Linked DNA regions of Homo sapiens. The protein of the gene in region 5 purifies or fractionates together with the protein of the main gene of each other region. This does not show direct contact. Each region holds a gene or a part of one and is shown on either strand. Other genes may lie near its edges.

Region 1 (3,500 bases), on a different chromosome or scaffold from region 5:
GTGAGGTAGCTAAGAGGCCATTTAGCTCCTTTTTTTTTTTTTTGACACTTATCTCCTTTTTTTTTTTTTTTTGACACGAAGTCTCACTCTGTTGCCGAGGTTGGAGTCCAGTGGCATGATCTGAACTCACCACAAACTCTGCCTCCTGGGTTCAAGCGATTCTCTTGCCTCAGCCTCCTGAGTAGCTGGGATTACAGGTGCCCGCCACCATGTCCAGCTAATTTTTGTATTTTTAGTAGAGATGGGGTTTCACCATGTTGTCCAAGCTGGTCTCAAACTCCTGACCTCAGGCGATCCAGCTGCCTCAGCCTCCCAAAGTGCTGGGATTACAGGCATGAGCCACTGTGCCTGGCCTATCTCCATTTTAGTAGATACTTTTCCATACTGTATACGTGAGGAAGGCAACTACTATGACTAAAACCCAAATTATAGTTTAATTAAAATAAATTAAAAATTTGATATTTTTGCCAGGCACGGTGGCTCATGCTTGTAGTCCCAGCACTTTGGGAGGCCAAGGTGGGTGGTTCATCTGAGGTCAGGAGTTCAAGACCAGCCTGGCCAACATGGTAAAACCCCATTTCTACTAAAAATATAAAAATTAGCCAGGTGTGGTGGCACATGCCTGTAATTCCAGCTACTCGGGAGGCTGAGGCATGGGAATTGCTTGAACCTGGGAGGTGGAAGTTGCAGTGAGCTGAGATCACACAACTGCACTCCAGCCCGGGTGACAGAGCAAGACTCTTCCTCAAAAACAAAAAATAAAAATAAAAAATTGATATTTTAACAAACATAAATGGAAAAGAAAAAAAACCCAAATACAGGTACAAAATTTATTCAAAGATTCATTGTAGTTTTCTGCATTTTACTATTATCTACGGCAACCATATACTAGACTTATAATTTTAAAAGTTATCAGGCTGGGTGCGTTGGCTCACGCCTGTAATCCCAACACTTTGGGAGGCCAAGGAGGGTGGACATTTGAGGTCAGGAGTTCGAGACCAGTCTGGCCAACATGGCGAAACCCTGTCTCTACTAAAAATAAAAGTTAGTTGGGCAGGGTGGCGCACGCCTGTAATCCCAGCTACTCGGGAGGCTGAGGCAGGAGAATCGCTTGAACTTGGGAGGCAGAGGTTGTGGTAAGGTGAGATCACACCACTGCACTCCAGCCTGGGTGACTGAGACTCTGTCTCAAAAAAAAAAAGTTATCGGCCAGGCGTGGTGGCTCACACATGTAATCCCAGCGCTATGGGAGGCCGAGACAGGCGGATCATGAGGTCAGGAGATCGAGACCATCCTGGCTAACACGGTGAAACCCCATCTCTACTAAAAATACAAAAAAATTAGCCGGGTGTGGTGGCGGGCACCTGTAGTCCCAGCTACTCGGGAGGCTGAGGCAGGAGAATGGCGTGAACCCAGGAGGCGGAGCTTGCAGTGAGCCGAGATTGCACCACTGCACTCCAGCCTGGGTGACTGAGCGAGACTCCATCTCAAAAAAAAAAAAAAGTTATCACATAGTTGCACAACTTTGTGAATACACTAAAAACCAATGAACTGTATACTTCAAATGGGTGAAATGTATGGTATGTGAATTATCTCAATAAAGCTACTAAAAAACATTATTTAAAAAGAATTCTTCTACATCTAAGGCCTGAGCAGGACTTGCTTTAACGCAACACCCCTGCAGCAGCATAACGTGGTCTATTTATTGCTGGACCAGGAACAGGCAACTCTGGGGAGGGTATGTGCTCATCGAGGCCACGCCATCTGCAGAGGTTCTGTTAAGAGCCTAGGGCTCCCCTTGGGTTAGCCCCCATTGAAGGGCCATTGTCAGTGCCCCCTCCTCAAAGGAGCCTGACTGCTGCTCTCGACTCACGGGGGCTTCCTAAAGGAAGGGCTACTTGTTCCCGATGGAGAGCTCAATGCCATTAGCATTTCTGTATACTTCTTCAAGATTTCGAATGCTACTTACCATTTCTGTGCAGCTTGTTATCACCCAAATGACTGGTTTTGGAGTCAGCGTTAACATTCCAATGCCTTACACACTTGCTGGTTTCCTTATGAAATTCAGTGTTTATGTTCTGCACCCAGTTAACTAATGTATTTGGCTACCTGAGAGTTGAGCATATTCTGTTTTAGTATCTTTTCTCCTACCACAAACCCAAAGGCTGGAATCCTGTATTTTGCTATCACTTCTACTCCTACTTGATTTGATACAATTCTCGAGTTAAAGAAGAAATACCTTTGGTCTCAACAACAAACTTCATAGGAGATCCTTAATCAGTTAAGCTTCTAATAGAAAAGCAGATAGGAACCAGGAGCCAGAAACTTGTCTTAAGACTGAGGCTCATCAGGACTTTACAAGAGAATCACATATTAGTACCATATTTGAGTCTGTCATTTTCTCTAACATTCTTTCCTTACCCCCAGAACAAGTCCACTGATTGTCTTAGACAGAGCAGGGATTTTTTTTTTTTTTTTTTTTTTTGAGACAAAGTTTCGCTCTTGTTGCTCAGGCTGGAGCGCAATGGTGCAATCTTGGCTCACTGCAACCTCCGCCTCCCGGGTTCAAGCGATCCTCCTGCCTCAGCCTCCTGAGTAGCTGGAATTACAGGTGCCTGCCAACATGCCCAGCTAATTTTTATATTTTTAGTAAAGATGGGGTTTCACCATGTTGACCAGGCTGGTCTTGAACTCCTGACCTCAGGTGATCCATCCACCTCAGCCTCCCAAAGTGCTGGGATTACAGGTGTGAGCCACCACGCCCGACCCCAATTTTTTTTTTTTTTAAAGAGAGAGGATCTTCCTAGGTTGCCCAGGCTGGAGTGCAGTGGCTATTCACAGGCATGATCACAGCACATTGCTGCCTTCAAATCCTAGCCTCAAGCGATACTCCAGCCTCAGTCTTCTGAGTAGCTAGGACTACAGGCACACAACACCATGCCTGGCTAATTTATTAAAAATTATTTGTAGCGACAAGGTCTTGCTATGCTGTCCAGGCTGGTCTTGAATTCCTGGCCCCAAGTGATCCTCCTGCTTTGACCTCCCAAAATGTTGGGATTACAGGTGTGAGCCACAGCACCCAGCCTGGAGCAGGAATTTTTAATTCTCAACTTCGCAGATGAGGACACTGAAAGAAGTTAAAGGTCACAGATGCAGGAAGGGGCAGAAGAAGAATGCCACCCCAGCTCCTTTCCACTGCCCCATCCAGCACAGCACTCTGTCCAAATACTGCTGGATCATCAGACCATGAGAGCTGACAAAGGCCAGAGGCCCCCTGCAGCTAGGTCCAGCCTGGGCATTCCCAGCATTCGGAGGGCCAGTCCAGCTACCTCCTTCCACTTCCTGTTTCCTTGCTAATGGAAAAGAAAGGATGCTCCTCCTTGCTTTCTAAAGTCCCAGGAGTTCTGAGGTTTAAAAACTTGGTTCAAAGAAAATAAAATACTCTGCACAGCAGGTACTTCTGCTGGAAACTAGATGGTCACTTCCCCTTTTTTTTCTTT
Region 2 (3,500 bases), on a different chromosome or scaffold from region 5:
GTCCAGGGGCTGTAGTTTGCCAGTTCATGCTCTATATCAAGCTTGTCCAACCCACAGCCTGCATGCAGCCCAAGATGGCTTTGATTGTGACCCAATGCAAATTCATAAACTTTCTTAAAACATTATGAGATTTTTTTGCAATTTTTTTTTTTAAAGCTGATTAGCTATCTTTAGTGTTAGTGTATTTTATGTGTGGCCCAAAACAATTCTTCCAGTGTGGCCCAGGGAAGCCAAAGGATTGAATACCCCTGCTCTAGATGGTCATCTTTCCTGTATCACGGCACATCCAAATCTTTTTCTAGGCTCCTTACCCCAGTAAATACAGCTCTGTGCATGCACATGTTTGTGGATTCAAAGCCCCTGGAGGCATCAGTGAGTTCTGCAGAGACAGGCAAATTCAGGCAAACTGCTGTATTTTTTATTCTTTTCATCTTAGGCTTAAGGCATACTCATTTGACTCAAGTTAAAATTATAGTTCCTATTTGTAAAAGCCGTATTTATTACTACAGACTTAACAGGGTGTAATATACAATAATCTGATAAGAAATTGGAAGTCTTTAAAGAACTATAGATTGCATATTTCAGAGCCACCTGTGGCGTGAAAGTTCCAGCCTCAGTAATGACCTCAAGTCAGGCATACTAAAGCAGAAGAACCAAAAATACATCCCATTTTCTGAGGTATAAAAGCTGGAAGGATTTTTTTCATGGAATGTTTCCTCACTATCCTTTTAGGCTCTGCGGATACTATAAGGAGAAGGGTGTGTAGACTTTATCACTAAAAACGAAGTCCTGTCGCCACCCTTGTAATGATTTTGTAAGTGAAAGTCCTTAAGTCTGTTTTTCAGAGAACATGCTCTATGGTTTTAGTCCTTTTAAATTTATTGAGATTTGTTTTATTCTAATATGTGGTCTGTCTGGATGAGTGTCCCATGTGTGCTTGAAAAAATGTATATTCTTTTGCTGAATGGAATATTCTGTAAATGAGAATTAGGCAAAGTCGATTGATAATGTTCAAGTCTTACATAGTGTTACTGATTTTTTTCTACCCTTCTATTATTTACTAAGAGGAGTATTGAAATCTCCATCTATCCTTGCTAATTTGTCTTTCTTCTTTTAGTTCTCTCAGTGTTTGCTTCATGTATTTTGGAGCTCTGTTACTACTGGTGCATATACATTTCTAATTGTTTTATCTCCCTGCCTGATTTATTCTTTTATTATGAAATGACTTCCTTTGACTCTAGTAATCCTCTGTCAATCTGTCTTTGTATTTAAAGTGGAGCTCCTACACAGCACATAGTTGGATCTTGATTTTTATCTAACCCAGTCTCTGTCTCTGACTTTTTTTTTTTGAGACGGAGTTTTACTCTTGTTGCCCAGGCTGGAAGTGCAATGGCGCAATCTCGGCTCACCGCAACCTCCACCTCCCAGGTTCAAGTGATTCTCCTGCCTCAGCCTCCCGAGTAGCTGGGATTAGAGGCATGCGCCTCTAAACCACGCCCGGCTAATTTAATTTTATATTTTTTTAGTAGAGAAGGGGTTTCTTTTTTTTTTTTTTCTCCTTTTGAGACAGAGTTTCACTCTTGTTGCCCATGCTGGAGTGCAATGGCATGATCTCAGCTCACCGCAACCTCTGCCTCCCGGGTCCCGGTTCAAGCAGTTCTCCTACCTCAGCCTCTTGGGTAGCTGGGATTACAGGCATGCGCCACCACACCCAGCTAATTTTTGTATTTTTAGTAGAGACGGGGTTTCACCACGTTGGCCAGGCTGGTCTCGAACTCCTGACCTCGTGATCCGCCTGCCTCAGCCTCCCAAAGTGCTCGGATTACAGGCATGAGCCACCATGCCTGGCGAGACGGGGTTTCTCCATGTTGGTCAGGCTGGTCTCGAACTCCCAACCTCAAGTGATCCACCTGCCTTGGCCTCCCAGTTGCTGGGATTACAGGTTGTGAGCCACTGCGCCCAGCTTCGGTCTCTGACTTTTAAGTGTTTAGTTCATTTACCTTTAATGTAAGTGTTGGATTGCTTGATGTTGTCCTTATCTCTGCCTCTAAAACTATGTTCTTGTTTTTTCCCCCAACCTTGTTTCTCTCTAATCTTTGCATTAGATAATTTCTTTTCCTTTTTTTTTTTGAGATAGGGTCTCGCTCTGACACCTCGGCTGGAGTGGTGCAGTGGTGCAGTGGCGTGATGATCTTGGCTCACTGAAACCTCTGCCTCCCAGGCTCAAGTGATCATCCCACCTCAGCCTCCAGAGTAGCTGGGACTACAGGTGCTCCCCACCAATGCCTGGCTAATATTTGTATTTTTTGTAGAGACAGGGTTTTGCCATTTTGCCCAGGCTGGTTTCAAACTCCTGAGCTCAAGCAGCTGCCTGCCTCAGTCTCCCAAAGTGCTGGGATTATAGGCATGAACCACTGGGCTTGACCTAAATTAGATAATTTCTGTTCTGTCTTCAAGGTTATAAATTTTTTTCTTTTGCCATCTCACCTCTGCTATTGAACTGGGCTAGTAAATTTTGCTTATTGTACACTTCAGCTTTAGAATTTCCTTTTTTTTCTTTTTCCTTTTTTTTTTTTTTTTTTTTTTTTTTTTGAGACAGTCTCACTCTGTCGTCAGGCTGGAGTGCAGTGGCACGATCTGGGCTCACTGCAGCCACCGACTCCCGGGTTCAAGTGATTCTTCTGCCTCAGCCTCCTGAGTAGCTGGGACTACAGGTGTGTGCCACCATGCCCAGCTAATTTTTGTATTTTTAGTAGAGATGAGGTTTCACCATGTTGGCCAGGATGGTCTCGATCTCTTGACCTCGTGATCCGCCCGCCTCGGCCTCCCAAAGTGAAAGTACTGGGATTACAGGCGTGAGCCACCACACTGGGCCTGGTTCTTTTTTAGAGTAAATTTCCTTTTCGAGATTCCTTATTTATTTACTTATACTATATTTGTAAAAAAATCTTTGGACATATTCATAACAGCTGCTTTGAAGTCTTTACCAAATCCAACACTTAGGACCACTTGGATTCAGCTTCTGTTGATTGCTTTTTTCCCCTAAATATGAATCACGCTTTCCTGTTTCTTTTCATATCTAGTAATTTTTTTAACTGAAACCTAGATGTGTAGATAATATGTAGTAGTAACTCCTGAATGTTTTGTTTCTAGAAACTGCTTTATTCTCTGAAAAGTATAGGTTTTCTTGTTTTAGTAGGCAGTTAACTTGCCTATACTCAAACTATAAACTCTGTCTCATGTGATGTGTGGCAGCTAATGTCTGCTCAGTTTTTTCAGCTTTGCTGCTTTTTTAGTCCTGGAGGTTTACCCTGTGCCTTTGTAATATAGTGGTCACTCAGGGATTTGGGAAGTTAATTCTCAGATTTTGGGGTTCATCCTTTCTGTGGTTCTGTTGCTTCTGGAGTTCCTCCTCTAAGTTTCCAGTTGCTCTGCCATCTCCCCACGTTTTACCCCAGCACCTAAAGATGGTAAGACTTCGCTTTCTCCACCCTGGGCTT
Region 3 (3,500 bases), on a different chromosome or scaffold from region 5:
CTTTTTGCCCAGGCTGGAGTGCAATGGCACGATCTTGGCTCACCATGATCTCGGCTCACTGGAACCTCTGCCTCCCAGGTTCAAGTTATTCTCCTGCCTCAGCCTCCTGAGTAGCTCCTCAGCCTCCCAAGTGATTCTCCTACCTCAGCCTCCCGGGATTACAGGCATGCGCCACCACGCCCAGCTAATTTTGTATTTTTAGTACAGATGGGCTTTCTCCATGTGGGTCAGGCTGGTCTCGAACTCTCGACCTCAGGTGATCTGCCTGCCTTGGCCTCCCAAAATGCTGGGATTACAGGTGTGAGCCATCGCACCCGTCTGTGATCATGTTTTTACAAAGTGGTATGATTTGTTTGGCTTGGCCTAAAATGAGGATGTTACCTTACAGATTTATTTTGTTTTACACTAACTCTGACTTAAACAATGAAAATTTTTAATATCTTCAGCTTTCTTGAACAAGCTAAATAAATCTTCATGTCTTAAATTTTATAAGGGTAAAGTACCTTATTGAAATCTTTCATTCAACAAATATTTGAATATCCACTACTTGTTAGGAACTGTGCTAATAAGATACAGTCTTTGCACTCAATGCATTGGCTCTTTCCACTCAGCATATAAATATGCTCAGATTTCTCACAACTAATAAATACAACACACTGGTCCATAAACCTGGATAATAGCTTTGTCGACTATTCGGAGGTAGAAATAAGAATGGAATCCTGCAATTACCTGCCCCCTATCCTACAAAGTAGATACACCTGTTATTTTTCTTGTAGTTCCTGAAGAGTGACTGACACTTAAATAATTACTAGATAGGTGCTATTTGCCTGCCTCATGCCATACTACCACCTCTTATCAGCTGGCAATGAAAGCCTACCTATTTTTAATGCAAAGGGGTTGAAATTAAAATGTTTTACTAAAACTTTGGTTTACCAGGCTACATGTTGTAATTATTTTTAAAATTCTAAAATTGTTATTTTGGGTTTGACTTTAATAACCAGATGATAAATGTGAATGTCTAAGACCACATGTGAAAGAAATAGTTAAAAAAAAAAAAAGGTGGGGCAAATTCACGGCAGATGGTAAGGCCAACCCTGCTTGATTTACAACCCTGCTTGTAAATGGAAACATTTGATTGTATGCAGTCTGAAGTTAAATCCTATTGATTGTGAAAAGGTAGCAGAGAGCCAAAAATTAAAAAGTCGAGGGCAGCAGAAACACTCCTCATCAGTTCACTGAGTGGCTTAATTGATAGCCAATGACTACAGGCACAATTAACAACCCAAGACCTAATAATGGAAAGGAAGTAAGAACAGAAACAACCTCCGAAACTAATGTTAACATATGGAGAAACTTCTACTGGTTGATAATTACTAGTGTGTACATAAAGCCTTGACAAGTTTCTTGACGCACACATGCTTACATCGGTGTTTAAATATAGCTGACACATATTTGAGTTCATAGTTTCTCATGTCCACATTCTCTAATAAGCTTCATTAGTACTTCATACCTTTTTTTTTAAATACAGTCTTGCGATGTCACCTAGGCTAGAGAGCAGTGGTGCGATCATAGCTCACTGCAGCCTTGAACTTCTGGACTCAAGTAATCCTCCTGCCTCAGCCACTTAAGTAGCTAAAACAGGCATGGGCCAGCACACCCAGCTAATACTTTTTTACTTTTTGTAAAGATGGGGGTTGGGGGTGGGTCTCACTACCCAGGCTGGTCTCAAATTCCTGGCCTCAAGTGATCCTCCCGCCTCATCCTCCAAAAGAGCTGAGATTACAGGCATGAGCCACCACACCCAGCCCCTAGTACTTTATATCTTTATCAGGTATGTGGCCTTCTACTGCTATTCTCTTTTTAAGTCTGTAATTTGTCTTATAAATTTATGGAGGGAGTGATGTTAACCCCAAACATAACTTGGTATCTTGCAAATAATAGGTATTAAGTGTTTATTAATGATATGAAATCCACCCTATAACCACACCTCAGCCCTTATCATTATGTGGAACTGCTCCTCCTTATCTCTCTGACTGGAATGCCCCATGGGCCAGTCCTTAAATTTCTTCTCTTCTCTAGCTACCCTCACTCCTCAGGTGATCTAATCTATACTGACAAGTCCCAAATGTAACCTGGACCATTCTTCTCTGAACTCTAGATTCCCATGTTCAACTGCTGACTTAATATCTCTATTACTTAGCATGTCTATTAGACATCTCAAAAACTTAACCAGTCTAGAACAGAACTCCTAAACTCTCCCCAAAAACCTGCTCTGCACCGTCCTCAAGTCTTCCTCATTTCTATTAATGACAACTCTATCCTTCCAGTTGCTCAAGTCAAAAACCTTGGAGTGATCCATTACTCTTTTCTTTTCACATTCTACAACCAATCCATCAGTAAATCTATCTGTATCAAAACATATCCAGTTAGAGTCACAGACAATCAGTATATTTATATTTTTATATACAGAAATACAGATTTTTACATAATTGTACATGGATACGTGGATTAGTATACATACATGCATTTCCTAGTTCTTTCCACTGAGAAAGTCTAGGAGCAATGATACTCCACAGCAATGAGCACACTTAGCATCCAGATCTTGGCTTCAAAATATCATCCTCCAATGAAAGGAACCAAGGTTCCTTAGAGAAATAATTGATTCTAGGGCTGAGGTAGGAAAAAAAAACAAGATGAACCTGAAGCATGTGGTAGTGTCAGAGAATAAAGAAGTGTGCATGTACATACGCATAAAAAAAGGATAGAAATATGCCAAAAAGACACAGAAGTAGACCTAAAAGAGATCCCAAGGGCCAAAACTGGAATAATTTGAGCAACAAAATAATGATAGCATTTAATTCTAACACTAAGAATAAAATAAATATCTATGAATTTGAACTGAGATAAATGATTAGATAGAAGGGAAAACCTTCCTTATAGAAGAATTCTAATTAATAAATGTAGAAAGAATGAGGAAAATTTAAAAAAGTACCTTCAGAAGCCACAGCAATAATTGCTGCAGGCAAGATCCACTAATGAATGCTAAAATTAGTGGGCAGAAACAGGATACTGGCAAAGCCTCAAAGTAGCTCTCTCAAAATATTTACCAATTACTGTGGTGGTTTTAATATATGTCCACAAATTCTTTTATACTTCTCCCTCCAGGAAGTGGAGTTTAATTTCCATCCCTTTAAGTGTGGGCTACACTTAGCAACCTGTTTCTAGTGCACGGACTATGGGAAAGGAAAAATAGTAACTTTACAGTGGACAAACCTAGCAGAAACCACCGTAACAGAGTGCTCACAAGTGATAAATTATTTGATATCATGCACCTCCTGTATGAAATAATAGGGGCACTTCACCTTTGCAGTACTCTCCCCCAAAATCCATAACCCCAATCTAATCATGAGAAAACATCAGACAAACCTAAACTGAAGAACATTCTACAAAATACTTGTGTCAAGGTTATAAAAGATAAGAAAAGACCAAGAAACTGCCAC
Region 4 (3,500 bases), on a different chromosome or scaffold from region 5:
CAAGAATTGAGCAACTACTAATTTCTCTAAACTTGGTTCCTTTCTAGAGCCAAAGGATAAGTTAAGTCTCTGTAGATATCAAAACTGCACAAGATTTTTATCAGCTAATCTTAACCAACTGAGTACGTCACTAAAGAGACCTTTAAAATATAACTGTTTTTAGCTTATTAACTGTAGAGTTGCCTGTGGCTGTTGTTTTGCTTTCCCTTCACAAAATGGTATCAAATGCCTTACTGATAAATATCTGAAACAAACAAAAAAGCCCTAAAATTACCTATGCCTCCCTCATCTTATGAGGTTAAAAAAAACCCACAGAATTCACTCCTAGAAATGGCATATATATATATATATATATATTTTTTTTTTATTGGTAGCATTTTAAAGTCTGTTAAGAGATTAGTTATTTGTTTGTTTATACTCCAAAATATACTCAATTTCAAACATACCTATCATTTATTTGCAAGTATCATCATCAATCAAGTAAGCAATAACAATGCACAAGGCTTAGAAGCAGATTTGTCATATTTCAAAAAGTGGAGCTCAAAGCAATTCATTTTAAGTTAACTTTAAATTTATAAACTCAAGGCAGTACAAGTCTGGTTTTTTTTTAGCTACCCAATATCTGATAAATATGAATACCTAATAATAGACGATAATAACAGTGATAAAATTAAAATGAGAGCAAACCACTGAATAATCTATTATTTCTTATTTCTTCCTATAAAGGATGCACCAAATTCAATTCCACAAGTTTTATATTGTGCAACTATTCTGTTGTTTGTCACTATGAAAGTTACTGAGGAAGATTAAAAAAAAAAGTCATACTATAAGCAACAACAGAGTCCCTTTTTAGTTTAAATAACAAAACACATCAGACCTTAAAAATCCAAATGAGTGTTACCCTCCAAAGCCAATACCCTGGGAGATAATACAGATGTTCAACTATTCACATTTCTTTCAAAGCCAGACTACAGGTCACACAAGAAAATCAGCAATTATATAGCATTCACACCACAAGGAAGTTGTTTTCAATACAAATCTCCTTGTTCCTTATATATAATTGTTTACTAATAACATTTTTTATTATCTAGCCCCCCTTCTCCTCAAAACTACACTGTTAATGAATATTGGCTACCAATATCAAAATATTATTTCTGATACAGTTTAATGCTAGTTAATCATTTGTAAGTGCATGGTTTCCCAAGATGACAACTTAAATTTATATGTGAGTTCAAGTACATTTCAATTTTTTAAGTCTCATTACATCATGGATCTATTTTACATGAAAGAAGTCCCTAATCCAAAGAGATAACAATCTTTAACCGAGTAAAAAACCAAGAAAAAAAATTACAGTAATAACTGGCATAAGCCTATATTATTTTTGAGAAAAAGTTTCCCGTATGTACTTGAATTTACCCTAATAACCAATCTAAGTTTCATACCATTTACAGCCTTTTCAATCAACTCTTCGCAAGCATCAAAATCACCCTTCAACACCAGCTTGTCATGAATATCTGTTAACATGGGATGTTCCAGTGCAATCTTGGTTTTCTTTTGCAGTGACTCAAAAGCTTCTGTATAGTTGTGTTGTCTGAAGTGTTTTAGGCAAAGGCGAATAGCTTCCTGTTCACGGTACTACTAGAACACAGAGTAAGTATGGAAAGAAGAGATTTGGTTAGATGATACTGTAGGAAACAATAACAACAGTAAAAATAACTAATCTACACTGAGCATTTATTAACACTATGTGCCAAGCAGTTTACTAACCTGATTCATTAGGTATCATTATTTGGCTCTTTTAACTAGCAAAACTAAAGCTTGGCCTGTTCCAATAACTTGCTCAAGGTCACAAAATATGTAGCCAAAAGTTATTAAACCAAACCTAATTCCAGAGCCTCAACTTTGAAGAAAGGGAGAACATCTATTTCTTAAACTCCACTTAATACTGTAAAAATTATAACTCCATAGCATCTATTAATCCCATTACAATGCAGGTACTGAGAGCACAAAAGAACATTAAATAATCCACATAAATTATATTATGCTATTTTTGGTTTTTAAAAATAAACTATTACTTGAATGACAAGTATCAAGTATACAGATATTTCAAATTTACAAACACATTTTATGACTCAAAAATCATCAAAAAGAGACATTTAATCTTTTTTTTTTTCTTTCTTTTTTTGAGACAGGGTCTTGCTCTGTCTCCCAGGCTGGACTGTAGCGGCATAATCTCAGCTCACTGCAACCTCCGCCTCCCAGGTTCAAGCAATTCTGCCTCAGCCTCCTAAGTAGCTGAGCTTACAGGCACGCGCTACCACGCCCAGCTAATTTTTGTATTTTTAGTAGAGTCGGGGTTTCACCATGTTGGTCAGGATGGTCTTGAACTCCTGACCTCAGGCAATCTGCCCACTTTGGTCTCCCAAAGTGCTGGGATTACAGGTGTGAGCCACTGCGCCCGGCCCAATTTAATTGTTTTCTAAGCCTGAACTACCTCATCTATTAAGCAGCTATAAAGTAGACATCTCAATTAACTGGAATCCAAAAAGCAGGCACTTAATTTATTAAAATTTTCCCCTAATAGGATAGATGCCAAAAATACAATCTTATAAAAAGGATTTTTTTAAAAAAATCTCAACTTCAGGAATATGTTCTGGGACTACCTCAAACTTCCTAAGTATACCACTATTCAAACAAACAGATGACATGGAAGCCTGCATGATAATCAAACAACAATGATTTACTTATAGGCATGACCCTTTAATAAGGCAAGAAAATAATGTGTTTAGGAAGATGTATAAGATTTGAAACAAATCAGTTGATAGCTGACTTAACTAATAAAAGGTCATTAAACACCTAATCCTTACACGTTATAATTAACTATAATTAATTAACAACTTAATTATAATTAGTTAACTATAATTAACTTACTCTTGGCCTCTAAAAAAGACTTATCATAACTACCATGTAACAATATATATTACAGTTATATTAAACAGCAGTATTTTTTAACCCTGTTGACTACTTTAGGAGTCTAAATCACATCCACATCTTAAATTTTCCATTAGGCTGCAAAACTATCCCACTAAAAACTATGTTTTAAGTATTTATATGAATACAAGTGAAAAAACAAAATTCAGAGTCAAATGGGTATAATAACATAAAAGCAGACTGTGGAGCCAAACTGCCTGAATTCATATACTGGCTCAAACACTTTACAATTGTGTGATCCTAGGCAAACTATTTAATCTCTCTGTTCTTCATTTCTTCATCTATAAACTAATGGGGATAATAAGTGCACCTGTCTCATAGAGTGATAATGACTAAGTGAGTTATCAGGATTCCTTAAAAGCTGGCAGACTGGAAGTGCTTAATAAAATGTTAGCTAACTGTTGTTATTATTATTTTGAATATTTTAAATTATTCTCAATGAAGATAAGAGATTGACATATTTCTCCTTTTATAGGCATTAAAGTCAGGATTTAAAACACAGTCCTACC
Region 5 (3,238 bases):
TGTTTCACCATGGTGCCCAGGCTGATCTTGAAATCCTGGGCCCAAACAATTGGTCTCCCAAAGTGCTGGGAGTGCAAACATGAGCCACTGAACCTGGCCTAAACATCTTTTCTTAAAAAGAAAAAAAAAGAAGGGTCCAGTGCAGTGGCCCACACCTGTAATCCCAGGACTTTGGGAAGCTGAGGCAGGCAGATCACCTGAGATCAGGAATTCAAGACTACCTGGCCAATATGGTGAAACCCCATCTCTATTAAAAATACAAAAACTAGCCGGGCATGGTGGCGCTCACCTGTAATCCCAGCTACTTGGGAGGCTGAGGCAGGAGAATTGCCTGAACTCGGGAAGTGGAGGTTGCAGTGAGCTGGAATCACACCACTGCATTCAAGCCTGGGCAACTGAGAGAGACTCTGTCTCCAAAAATAAAAATATTGGCAATGAACCCTCTTTGGGTGAGGAAAGATTGAAATTATACCTAAAGACAATGTACCATATAGCAATTGTCTGTTGAAAATATATTTTTATTATAAACAACATAAACACTTCCTAATACACTTTGCAAATATGCATTTCATTTTCTTTGCCTGAGTTTTTATCAACAGTGTCTCTGAGCACAATAGTTCTTCCCTTGATGGCCGATCATATATTCAATAAGTGCCAAGCACCCTCCCCAAGTATCAATAGGCACTGTGGGAAGTGCTGGGGGATTTTTTTAAATGCAGAGAAAAAAAGGCATCCTTCCATATCTCAAGGGATCACAATCTAGTAGACTGCTTTAAAAAAAAATTTGGATGTCTCTTTTTTAATATACATACTTCCACTTTATAAGATATATTTTATTTCATGCTATACAAGTCTTTAGAAAATAGCCTATATATCCAAGACAAACTGGACAATTAAATAATTAGCTAGGTAAAATAGGGTTAAAATGCAACTTTTAGTCTTAAATAATCAAATAATTTATGAAAAAGGGATGCCATGGCCTTAGACTATTTTGATAACAATTTTAACTTTGTAATGTGTGACTTCTGAAGAACCTGAAATATTTTAATAAAAAGACATCATCCTTCTTTATCCTTTATAATATGCAAAGGAATATTTGTCTTATATGAGAGCAGACTTTGAGTCATTGCCAAAAGTGAAAATTAAACAGAATTCAAAGGCCACATCTACTATTCTTACCACTGCTCTTTTGTCTCCTGTCTTTAATGACTTTGATATTTCGTTAGTGTCTGTGTGAAGAAGGGCACATACATCTGAATATCCTCAGTGCAAAATGAAAATTATTTATTTGGAAGTTACAGTCTATTATTACAGACATTTTCCTTTGGTTTATTTCTTTTATGTATGGCTCTCCCAAATTTCCATTTTCATACTATTTTATACTTTTTAGTAAGAATGATTTATTCATTATATGCATGTATTTACTTTATGCCCTTGTAAAATTTCCTTATAAATATATTTTTAAATTATGCTCTCATTGACAGACCATGTGTCCCATTTGTGGTGTGGGAAGTATCATCAACCATTGCTTTTGTACAGCAACAAGAATCAGATGCTCTTTAGAGATCCTCCATTTCATTACTCTAACATTCTTCAATGTGGTTCCAGCCACGCATAGTCATATAGATACTACATATTCAAAGATAACTTACTGAAGCTTGTTCACAGAACCAAGCTTTCTCCTGATAGCTCTTCTTCCCCTACCCCGCACTTCTGGAAGTATTACCCCAAATGCTCTTCAGGATTTAAATAACAATTTTTAAAAAGACACTTAACACCACAAAATGGAATTTGCTGGCATGACGCGAACAATACGGTTACTCCAGATGCTGTATTCAAACTGTATGGGTCCGTTGAAAAAATAGATATAACCTATAAGAAAAAGCATAAAGACAATTTCAGAGTTTGAAAATAATAAGGTTTTAATCCAGTTAATATTAATGGTTCAATCTCTTAGATCCCATTTGTAGGAATTTCAAACTTTTTCTTTTTAAACTCTATTAGTTCTTTAATAGTTGTTCCTTTTTAAATTTTTTATTTTTTTATTTTTATTTTTTAGTTGTTCTTTTAAGGTGTGAATCCTCCTACACAGTTTTGCTACTTGGATTATCGATTTTTGTGTGCGTATATGAGACAGAGTCTCACTCTGTCATCCAGGCTAGAGTGCAGTGGCAGTGATCTTGGCTCACTGCAACCTCTGACTCCTAAGTTCAAGTGATTCTCCTGCCTCAGCCTCCTGACTAGCTGGGATTACAGGTGCATGCCACCACTCCCAGCTTTTTTTTTTTTTTTTTTTTTGGATTTTTAGTAGAGATGGGGTTTCGCCATGTTGGTCAGGCTGGTCTTGAACTCCTGACCTCAAGTGATCCGCCCACCTCAGCTTCCCAAAGTGCTCAGATTGCAGGCATGAGCCACCGCACCCAGCCTATTTGTTATAAGTTATCAATAATATCTCTTTTCATAGTTAAAGGAGGTCGGTGAGGTCAGGCCTGTAATCTGAGCACTTTGGGAGGCCGAGGCGGGTGAATCGCTTGAGGCCAGGAGTTCAAGACCAGCCTAGCCAACATGGCGAAACTCCATCTCTACTAAAAATGCAAAAATCAGCCAGGCATGGTGGCAGGCACCTGTAATCCCAGCTACTCCAGAGGCTGAGGCAGGAGAATCTCTTGAACCCAGGAGGCGGAGGTTGCAGCGAGCTCAGATTGCGACAATGAACTCCAGCCTGGGTGACAGAGTGAGACTCTGTCAAAAAAAAAAAAAAAGGTTGAGAACATAATTAAAGTAAAAAGTCACTATATAGTTAAGGTAGTTATGAGTCTTTATATATAAATTACTTCCCACTCCACAGCCAGTTTGAATTCTGGCAATATCCTTGCATTTTGGCATCTTTAAGCATAGATTAAGGTAATGTTGAAGGTTTAGCATCTCGTATTTATAGAATTAGCAATCATTAAGTAAAATTCTTATTTATTCTAACCATGTTTTTTTTGGTTTGCTGTCTTTGTAGGTAGTCACACAGGAACAATTAATTCCTTAACTGCCATACATTTATTAACACATCTAGGTCCTATATAAAAATGCTTTGTACAGAAAAGAGTTTTGAGGGGCTACAGAAGCTCCTCTTTAAAGTCAGTGCAATGTAACTACTTACCATTTTTCTCATAGACAGCATCTACTTTATCACCAATTCCTGGGAAGTCTTCTTCTATTAGTCTCGGATAGTCTTTATCCATAATAT
Region 6 (3,500 bases), on a different chromosome or scaffold from region 5:
CCCCTTAGCTTGTGTGTGTTTCCTCCCTCTTTTCTGGCTTGAACCCCTTCCCTGACTCCTTCTGAGCCCATGCTCTCACAGAGTTCCACTGAAGGGGGAAGAAAGTAGTACTGTTTAACTAGAGGCAAGAAAGCTGAGGAGTGGGAACTGAATCACTGTCTTCCAATCGATGAAGGGCTTTGGTAAAGAGGATAGAGACCAGCCATTATTCTCCAGCTCCACTGAGGACAGAGCCAGAGGAAAAGGGCTGAAGCTGCAGCATGAGAGATTGAGGTTACACAGGGTTGTGAGACCTCTCTTAGGCAAGTAAGGGAGGCTCTACATTCTTTTCCTCCTGGAAATGAAGAAACCAGGCTTGCACTGGTCTGGTACGGGTTGGATTCCAGCTGGAGGCTGCGAGAGGAGTAGGGTGAGGTGACCTTAAGTATCTGGTTCTGATGTCTGCCGATGTACTGAAGTGCAGCCTGATGGATTCTCCTGTGTGCTGGCCCTTGCAGGGTAAGGGTGGGAGAAGCTGAGGCCCTCCCCCTACTCTTGGGCTAGGCTGCTAATGGAATTCCCCCCTCATTCCTCCTTCAGTTATCATGGAAACTCTGGTGAAGTTGGCTGCTACGTGGCTTCTCGACCCCTGACCAAGGACAGCAATTATTTTGAGGTGATCAAGGCAGTGGGTGGGCAGAGCAGGGGGTGAGCTTGGGGGTGAGATCATTAAGCCCCAAGAAGCTCCTTTACTAGATGTATGACCTGGGCCTTTTAATTTTCCATCAGGGCTGTCCTGTTGGCTGGGAAATAGGTGCAGGATAGCATGGCCCCTCATCTGAGAGATAGGTGCCCTGGAAACCTGTCACCCTGTCCCTTCTGCTCTCCTACCCCTTAGCTAGGTAGACTTTGACCCATATCCCAGACTTGACTCATGTCCCCTAACCCAAACCCACCATATAGGGACGTGAGTCCTATCTTTCTCCAAAGCTTTGGAGTAATTTTCTAAGTGAAATAGGCACCCACTCTCACCAATTGCCCCCTCTGAGTATCTTATCTTTTTTCCTGATTCCCATGTCCTTTTTCTTTTTGAGCCTCAGCGCCCTTTAATCTCTAAGTCCCCTTCCCCCACCCCCAGCAATTCATCCCATTTCCCAGCCCTGCTGACTGTGCCCTGCTTTCTTCTCTCCAGGTGTCTATTGTGGACAGTGGAGTCCGGGGCACCATTGCTGTGGGGCTGGTCCCTCAGTACTACAGCTTGGATCACCAGCCTGGCTGGTTGCCTGACTCTGTAGCCTACCATGCTGATGATGGCAAGTGAGTTGGCTCCTGTGCAACCCGGCCCTTTTCCTATGAATTTGGGAATCTTAGATCTGAAGAACTACCTTGGGCTGGCTTTTCCCATTGGGTGTTTCATAGACTTTTCTGGTCAGGACAGGGAAGTGGCCTGGCAGCACCCTTGAAGGCTTACAGACTAGAGGAGGGTGATGCTCACGCCAGGACGTAAGTGGGTACCATCACAGAATGACCAGGAGCAGCAAGATGAGGATGAGGCCTCTGCTGTCAGTGCTGGGGAGAAGTTGGGAGGCCAGGCTCGGGTCCTGTGTCTGTACTACTCTGTCTGTAGGCTGTACAATGGCCGAGCCAAGGGCCGCCAGTTTGGGTCAAAGTGCAACTCCGGGGACCGGATTGGCTGTGGCATTGAGCCTGTGTCCTTTGATGTGCAGACCGCCCAGATCTTCTTCACCAAAAATGGGAAGCGGGTGAGTGGGAAATAGTGGTGGGATTTACGTGGCTGAAATCTGCCCAAGGATTTGTGGGGAGTGATTAGGAAGAGTCTGCTGGCTGGGGCTTGCCCAGGGACCCTTGCACTGAGTTCCCATCTCCTCCAGTCCAGCCTCAGATTCTCCTGAAGTCTCTTGCGTGTAGGAGAAGATACTTCCCATGGCCAGAGGAAGCTGGGACATTGCCCAGATGACAGGCAGAGAGAGGCAAGTTAGTGGAGCAGAGGATGAGCAGGAATTGTGGGGAACAGAATTGGGTGATTTGGGGGAAGGTTTTGAGCAGATAAAAGAGAGGGGAAGATTATGGCCTGGCCATGTAAGCTGGAGGTCCTCTTTGGGTTTTGACTTGAGCACTTTTGGGGATATGTCCTTTCTGTGTCCTGTTTTCCTTGTTTCACGTCTCTTTCACTATCCTGTTCGTAGAGAGACTAGGCGTGGTGAGGAGATGGGACAGGAGCCAATAGTAGAGAGAGACACACAGCTCTCTCCCTTCTCTCCAACTCCATCTCCCACATTGGGAAATTGGTTTCTCAGGCCTTGGCCAAGGGGTCCTGCTGCCTTAGCATCTGCGCCTCGGCACTCTCCTGTCCAGCACACGTACTGAAAGTATTTGGCAGCAAGTCAGGAGACTTGTGTTTGTCTTCTAGCTCTGTACATACCTTGCTTAGCCAGGAGTACTTAGCACATTTGGAAACTTTTCTGCACCTCTGGGTTGCTTTTTTTTTTTTAATCTGTCAGTGTGTGTGATAATTATTGGTTGCATCATCTTTTTTTTTTTTTTTTTGAAATGGAGTCTCGCTCTGTCCCCCAGGCTGGAGTGCAGTGGCACCATCTCGGCTCACTGCAAGCTCCGCCTCCCGGGTTCACGCCATTCTCCTGCCTCAGCCTCCCGAGTAGCTGGGACTACAGGCGCCCGCCACCACGCCCGGCTAATTTTTTGTATTTTTAGTAGAGACGGGGTTTCACCGTGTTAGCCAGGATGGTTTCAATCTCCTGACCTTGTGATCCGCCCACCTCGGCCTCCCAAAGTGCTGGGATTACAGGCGTGAGCCACCACGCCCGGCTGGTTGCATCATCTTAAAAGTACCCTTGTGAGAATTAGGTGAGCTATGGAAAAGCAGGCCGGGTGGCAGCTCCGTCTTTCCCCCCACTGCAGGTGGGCTCTACCATCATGCCCATGTCCCCAGATGGACTGTTCCCAGCAGTGGGCATGCACTCCCTGGGTGAGGAGGTGCGGCTGCACCTCAACGCTGAGCTGGGCCGTGAGGACGACAGCGTCATGATGGTGGACAGTTACGAGGATGAATGGGGCCGGCTACATGATGTCAGAGTCTGTGGGACTGTAAGTAGCGGGTGGGAGGGTGGGAGGGGCTGGGTCGGAGGAGGCTGGGCAGAACACCTGTGGGCACATGGTCATGTCTGAATTGCTGGGAATGGGGAGTCGGGACAGTGTCCGTGTGGGGTTTGGCAAGATAGCCTAGGCTCTTGACATGAGTCCTTGAGTCCAGATCTGTGTTTTCTTTAGCACATGTTCTCTTTTCTTCACTTCCTCCTCTTCAGGGAACTCAGGTTCGCAGTTTGACCCTGGGAACAAGTAGTTCTGCTTTGCCTTTTTTGGTTCCTTCAGCTTCTGGTGTCTTCTACAGCCCTGCACAACTGCCTTTGAGGGGCTGGGGGTTGATCTGGAGGCAAAATGCCTGGCCCAGGCTTTTCATTCAAAGTGTTGTGGGGCAGGTG
Region 7 (3,500 bases), on a different chromosome or scaffold from region 5:
AAGTAGATATCTTATTTTTCAGGCTATTAACTATATCAGAAAAATAGCTTACTTGATCAAAAAGCAATCAATTAAATGATGCCCCAAATATGAGAGATACTTAGTTTCTAATCAGGCATATTAAAAGAGAGATAGAATATAGGTATATTTAGATATACTTAATTATGTCAATAAAATTAGACAATACAAGTATAAAAGTTCTATAACAATGATATATTTTCAGAAATCACATATTCATAAGACATTTGAGGTATAATATGTAGACAAAGAAAAAAATTAACCAAATTTGTATTAGGTGAATTTGGAATATTAGTCAATGTTACAGAAATCATTACATTTACTGAAAATGCAGTCTTCTGATAAAACAATATCACTTCCGTAGGAAAAAGCCTATAGAAATCAATCTAATCTAATTTAATTTGCAATTCTGAACAGGAAAATAGTAAAATCAAAGGAGATGCCCTGTGTGTATGGGCATGCCACTGTTTCTGCTGTGTGAGACAGACACATTAATGGCACACCCTTTGGGTAACACATAATATTTTTTAAAACATGCTACATGAAAGTGAAATAGCACTAAATGACCTGGCCATCATAATATTAGAATTTATCTGTTTTTCACAAAACCCTGTACTGATAATGTACTTTAAAAATGACATTCTAAGATACTATAAATTCCCTATCCTTTGACAAAATTCATAGAACAGCTCAAATAAAGTGATCTGGTTCATTAAAGAAAAAAGCACTTATACGTACATTCAACAGTATCATTTACCTGGGTGAGCTTGTCTCATGTGATAGGTCACCGGGTATGGATGTGACTCCCCACACAGTTCACAGATGGTATCTTTCTCTGGTCCTCCTACTGCCAGCTGGGCCATCTCTCCAAACAAATTACCCCTGGGCCTAACTTCTGCCTTTTCTTTTTTCTTTTTTTCCTTTTTGGACTTCTTATTCTCTTTCTCACACTCTTTCTTTTTAAGAACTGCACAGGAACCAGGACTTGGAAAAATCATATTCTGGGAAGCAGCTTTGATAGTAGCCAAAGAGATGTCTTCCCAAAAAGCCACTAAATGTTGTAAAGTTAAGGGAAGAGGAGACTTAGACTTCATTGTGTTATGCATGGACATTTCAAAAGTGGTCTCGGTTTTCCCATCCTCACATTTTTCATGCAGAGGTGGTTCCTTAAGCATAGACAATACCTTGTTTTTGTTGATGCTACCCATCTTAGATATATCTGGTCCATGGGGTGCAATATTAAACATATTCAGTGCAGATGATATTTCTAATGAATGTCTATTTTTTAACTTGGTTTCTTTTTCCTCTGTAGGTTGTTGGCTATTTAAACTACTCCTTATAGGAGCATGTTCTTTGGAAAGTTCAGGATGAAACTTTAGGAAAGAAGAACAAGCCATTGCATCATGTACTATGCCTTCATGCCAGAGGAAGGAAGCAAACACAGCTCTGGCACATTCGGCCACAGAAGGAGACATGGCTTGCTTGGCTGGCTCTAAAGGCTTGGATCCATCTCCTTTGAAAAGAAAACTCGATTTTTCTTTTTTGGGCCTGGTGTGTCTATTAGCACATTTTCGACTTATTTTGGGAGATGCTCTCATTTCCTGTTCATCTTTCAGTGGTGCTTTTCCAATGCTAAAATGAACTTTATTTGAACCTTCATCCACACTCTTAAATTCACTGCTGTCATCGCAGGTGCTGTCTGTTAGACTATTTGTTTTTAAAGTACTTGAGGTGCAGACTTCGACCACCTCACTGTGGAGGTTTTCCTGTACCACATGGGGAGAGGGAGCTCTATTTTCAGATCCAGGGGAATCTGTAGAATCCTTTGGTACTGATTTTGGTTTTGGTGACGTTGACCGTCCTCTCAAAGGTTCTGTGAGGGGCATTTTCTTCTTGCGGAGGGTATCTGGATCAAGTGTGTAAGAGTCTGATTTAGAACGTTCCCGAGGAGGATCAAGCTTTGTCTTAACAGGAGCAGTACTTTTTTGAGGTAGATTTTTATCATGTGGTGAGGAGGAGCGTGGAGAACTAGCACCCGATGGGCTAGACCTATTGGCTGGGAGAGTCTTTGGCTTAGGAGATGACAACCGAGAACCTGGTCCTGGGGATTCAGCTCTGGAGCTAGAAGGCATCCTCCCATCAGATTTCAATGTCTGCAAGGTGTTATGGTTGGGGGATAATGACCTACTGTGGGAATCTGACCTCAACTTTGCAGCATCAGATTTTAAGATGAGGGATTCACTAGCAGATAAACTTTCTGTGCCCCTTGGCTTCTTCTGATCAGCAGTAGTCCGGCTCATACGTCCATCAGGTTTAAGCGATCTGCTGTGTTTAGAGGACAGCTCTGATTTTCCTGATGTAGAGGCTGGTTTAGAAGATGTTGAGATGTTTCCTCGATCACCTGTATGGTCCATTTTACAGTGAAACTTATTAATAAAATTATAACTTACTGATAATTTAGCCACTAAACACTGAAATAAAAAAACATAGCTACAAAATTTATATTGTTTGTCATACATACTAAAATACTTGAAGAATAAAGGAAAGAAGGGGGAAATATTTCTAATAAAATTTCTACACATCATTACACAACATTACCACCAAAAACTATTTTCATGGACGCAAAACAACAGGTTGAACAAATCCAGTGTGAACTATCAGTGATATCTCAACCTCTGCCCTAGTGCAATAACTAGTTAGAATTTAAATTCAGTGAGGGACTAGAAAGAGACAGAAATTAATCTTTTGGGGAATAAGAAATTATTTAATGTGAAAACTTGTATTTTAAATGTAGAGTAGAGCTAAATTTCCAGCAGAGTGATACCTCGCATCCTTAGGGCAACGGTATGGGTTTTGTTGAATTAGAGAACTGAATTTATGCATAGACACAATTATAATTTTTAAGTGTATGCATACAATTAGGCTAACAAAGAGTTGCTTAAGAGGCACTCTGTTTTATGATCAGATTAGACTAGTTTACAATGAGCACATGAATGCCCTGAAGCTGTTATTTAATTATTTATAAACAGGTTACACTCCAAAAGTTCAGGAAGCTTAGCTGCTTAGAACTCAGAGCCTGTGTTCCCTTGGAAACCACAGAAACGGTGGATCCTCAGAATGAGTGGTAAAAGTCTGAACTGTGGACCCTCAAAACAAGGAGTCAGGAGAATGACAGAAAAACAGGATGAAAAGAAGAATCACCTCCCTTTTCTAAGGCAAAGCATTAGATGTTTCTGCATGGACATTAATTGTTTTTAGCACCCTGCCTTCATTCAGTGTCTCTCCTTCATTCTATTTTATGCTTTTCTTTGAGGCATTAGAGCCAGGCTGTCTGTGACCCAAGTAAATGGTACAAACTTCAACATCACCTTTCCTCCTTAAAATAAAAACTTCTACTCTTAGTGCAAGTGATACCAGTTAGTTGTTAGGAGAAAAGCAATCTGACTGAAGGGTTTCAAGTGGTATAAAAAACTGAAAATCCA

What was found.
Region 1: the proteins of MMP13 (region 5) and GID4 purify together in Homo sapiens (affinity purification with mass spectrometry; one large-scale study listed by BioGRID and IntAct). This does not show direct contact.
Region 2: the proteins of MMP13 (region 5) and FBXO45 purify together in Homo sapiens (affinity purification with mass spectrometry; one large-scale study listed by BioGRID and IntAct). This does not show direct contact.
Region 3: the proteins of MMP13 (region 5) and PEAK1 purify together in Homo sapiens (affinity purification with mass spectrometry; one large-scale study listed by BioGRID and IntAct). This does not show direct contact.
Region 4: the proteins of MMP13 (region 5) and MKLN1 purify together in Homo sapiens (affinity purification with mass spectrometry; one large-scale study listed by BioGRID and IntAct). This does not show direct contact.
Region 6: the proteins of MMP13 (region 5) and SPRYD3 purify together in Homo sapiens (affinity purification with mass spectrometry; one large-scale study listed by BioGRID and IntAct). This does not show direct contact.
Region 7: the proteins of MMP13 (region 5) and MYCBP2 purify together in Homo sapiens (affinity purification with mass spectrometry; one large-scale study listed by BioGRID and IntAct). This does not show direct contact.

Annotation. Positions count from the first base shown.
Region 1 is NC_000017.11:18,045,908-18,049,407, reverse strand, and holds part of GID4 (glucose-induced degradation protein 4 homolog), read right to left. Parts: intron 1-3,500.
Region 2 is NC_000003.12:196,578,660-196,582,159, forward strand, and holds part of FBXO45 (F-box/SPRY domain-containing protein 1), read left to right. Parts: intron 1-3,500. UniProt on the Homo sapiens protein: Component of E3 ubiquitin ligase complex consisting of FBXO45, MYCBP2 and SKP1. Functions in substrate recognition but also plays an important role in assembly of the complex.
Region 3 is NC_000015.10:77,410,105-77,413,604, forward strand, and holds part of PEAK1 (inactive tyrosine-protein kinase PEAK1), read right to left. Parts: intron 1-3,500. UniProt on the Homo sapiens protein: Probable catalytically inactive kinase. Scaffolding protein that regulates the cytoskeleton to control cell spreading and migration by modulating focal adhesion dynamics. Acts as a scaffold for mediating EGFR signaling.
Region 4 is NC_000007.14:131,397,376-131,400,875, reverse strand, and holds part of MKLN1 (muskelin), read right to left. Parts: coding exon 3,500-3,500; intron 1,639-3,499; exon of another isoform or gene 1,636-1,638; coding exon 1,443-1,635; intron 1-1,442. UniProt on the Homo sapiens protein: Component of the CTLH E3 ubiquitin-protein ligase complex that selectively accepts ubiquitin from UBE2H and mediates ubiquitination and subsequent proteasomal degradation of the transcription factor HBP1.
Region 5 is NC_000011.10:102,942,495-102,945,732, forward strand, and holds the end of MMP13 (collagenase 3 preproprotein), read right to left. Parts: coding exon 3,152-3,238; intron 1,873-3,151; coding exon 1,772-1,872; 3' UTR 501-1,771; downstream 1-500. UniProt on the Homo sapiens protein: Plays a role in the degradation of extracellular matrix proteins including fibrillar collagen, fibronectin, TNC and ACAN.
Region 6 is NC_000012.12:53,072,891-53,076,390, reverse strand, and holds part of SPRYD3 (SPRY domain-containing protein 3), read left to right. Parts: intron 1-579; coding exon 580-655; intron 656-1,171; coding exon 1,172-1,296; intron 1,297-1,606; coding exon 1,607-1,742; intron 1,743-2,919; coding exon 2,920-3,105; intron 3,106-3,500.
Region 7 is NC_000013.11:77,096,595-77,100,094, forward strand, and holds part of MYCBP2 (E3 ubiquitin-protein ligase MYCBP2), read right to left. Parts: intron 2,420-3,500; coding exon 776-2,419; intron 1-775. UniProt on the Homo sapiens protein: Atypical E3 ubiquitin-protein ligase which specifically mediates ubiquitination of threonine and serine residues on target proteins, instead of ubiquitinating lysine residues.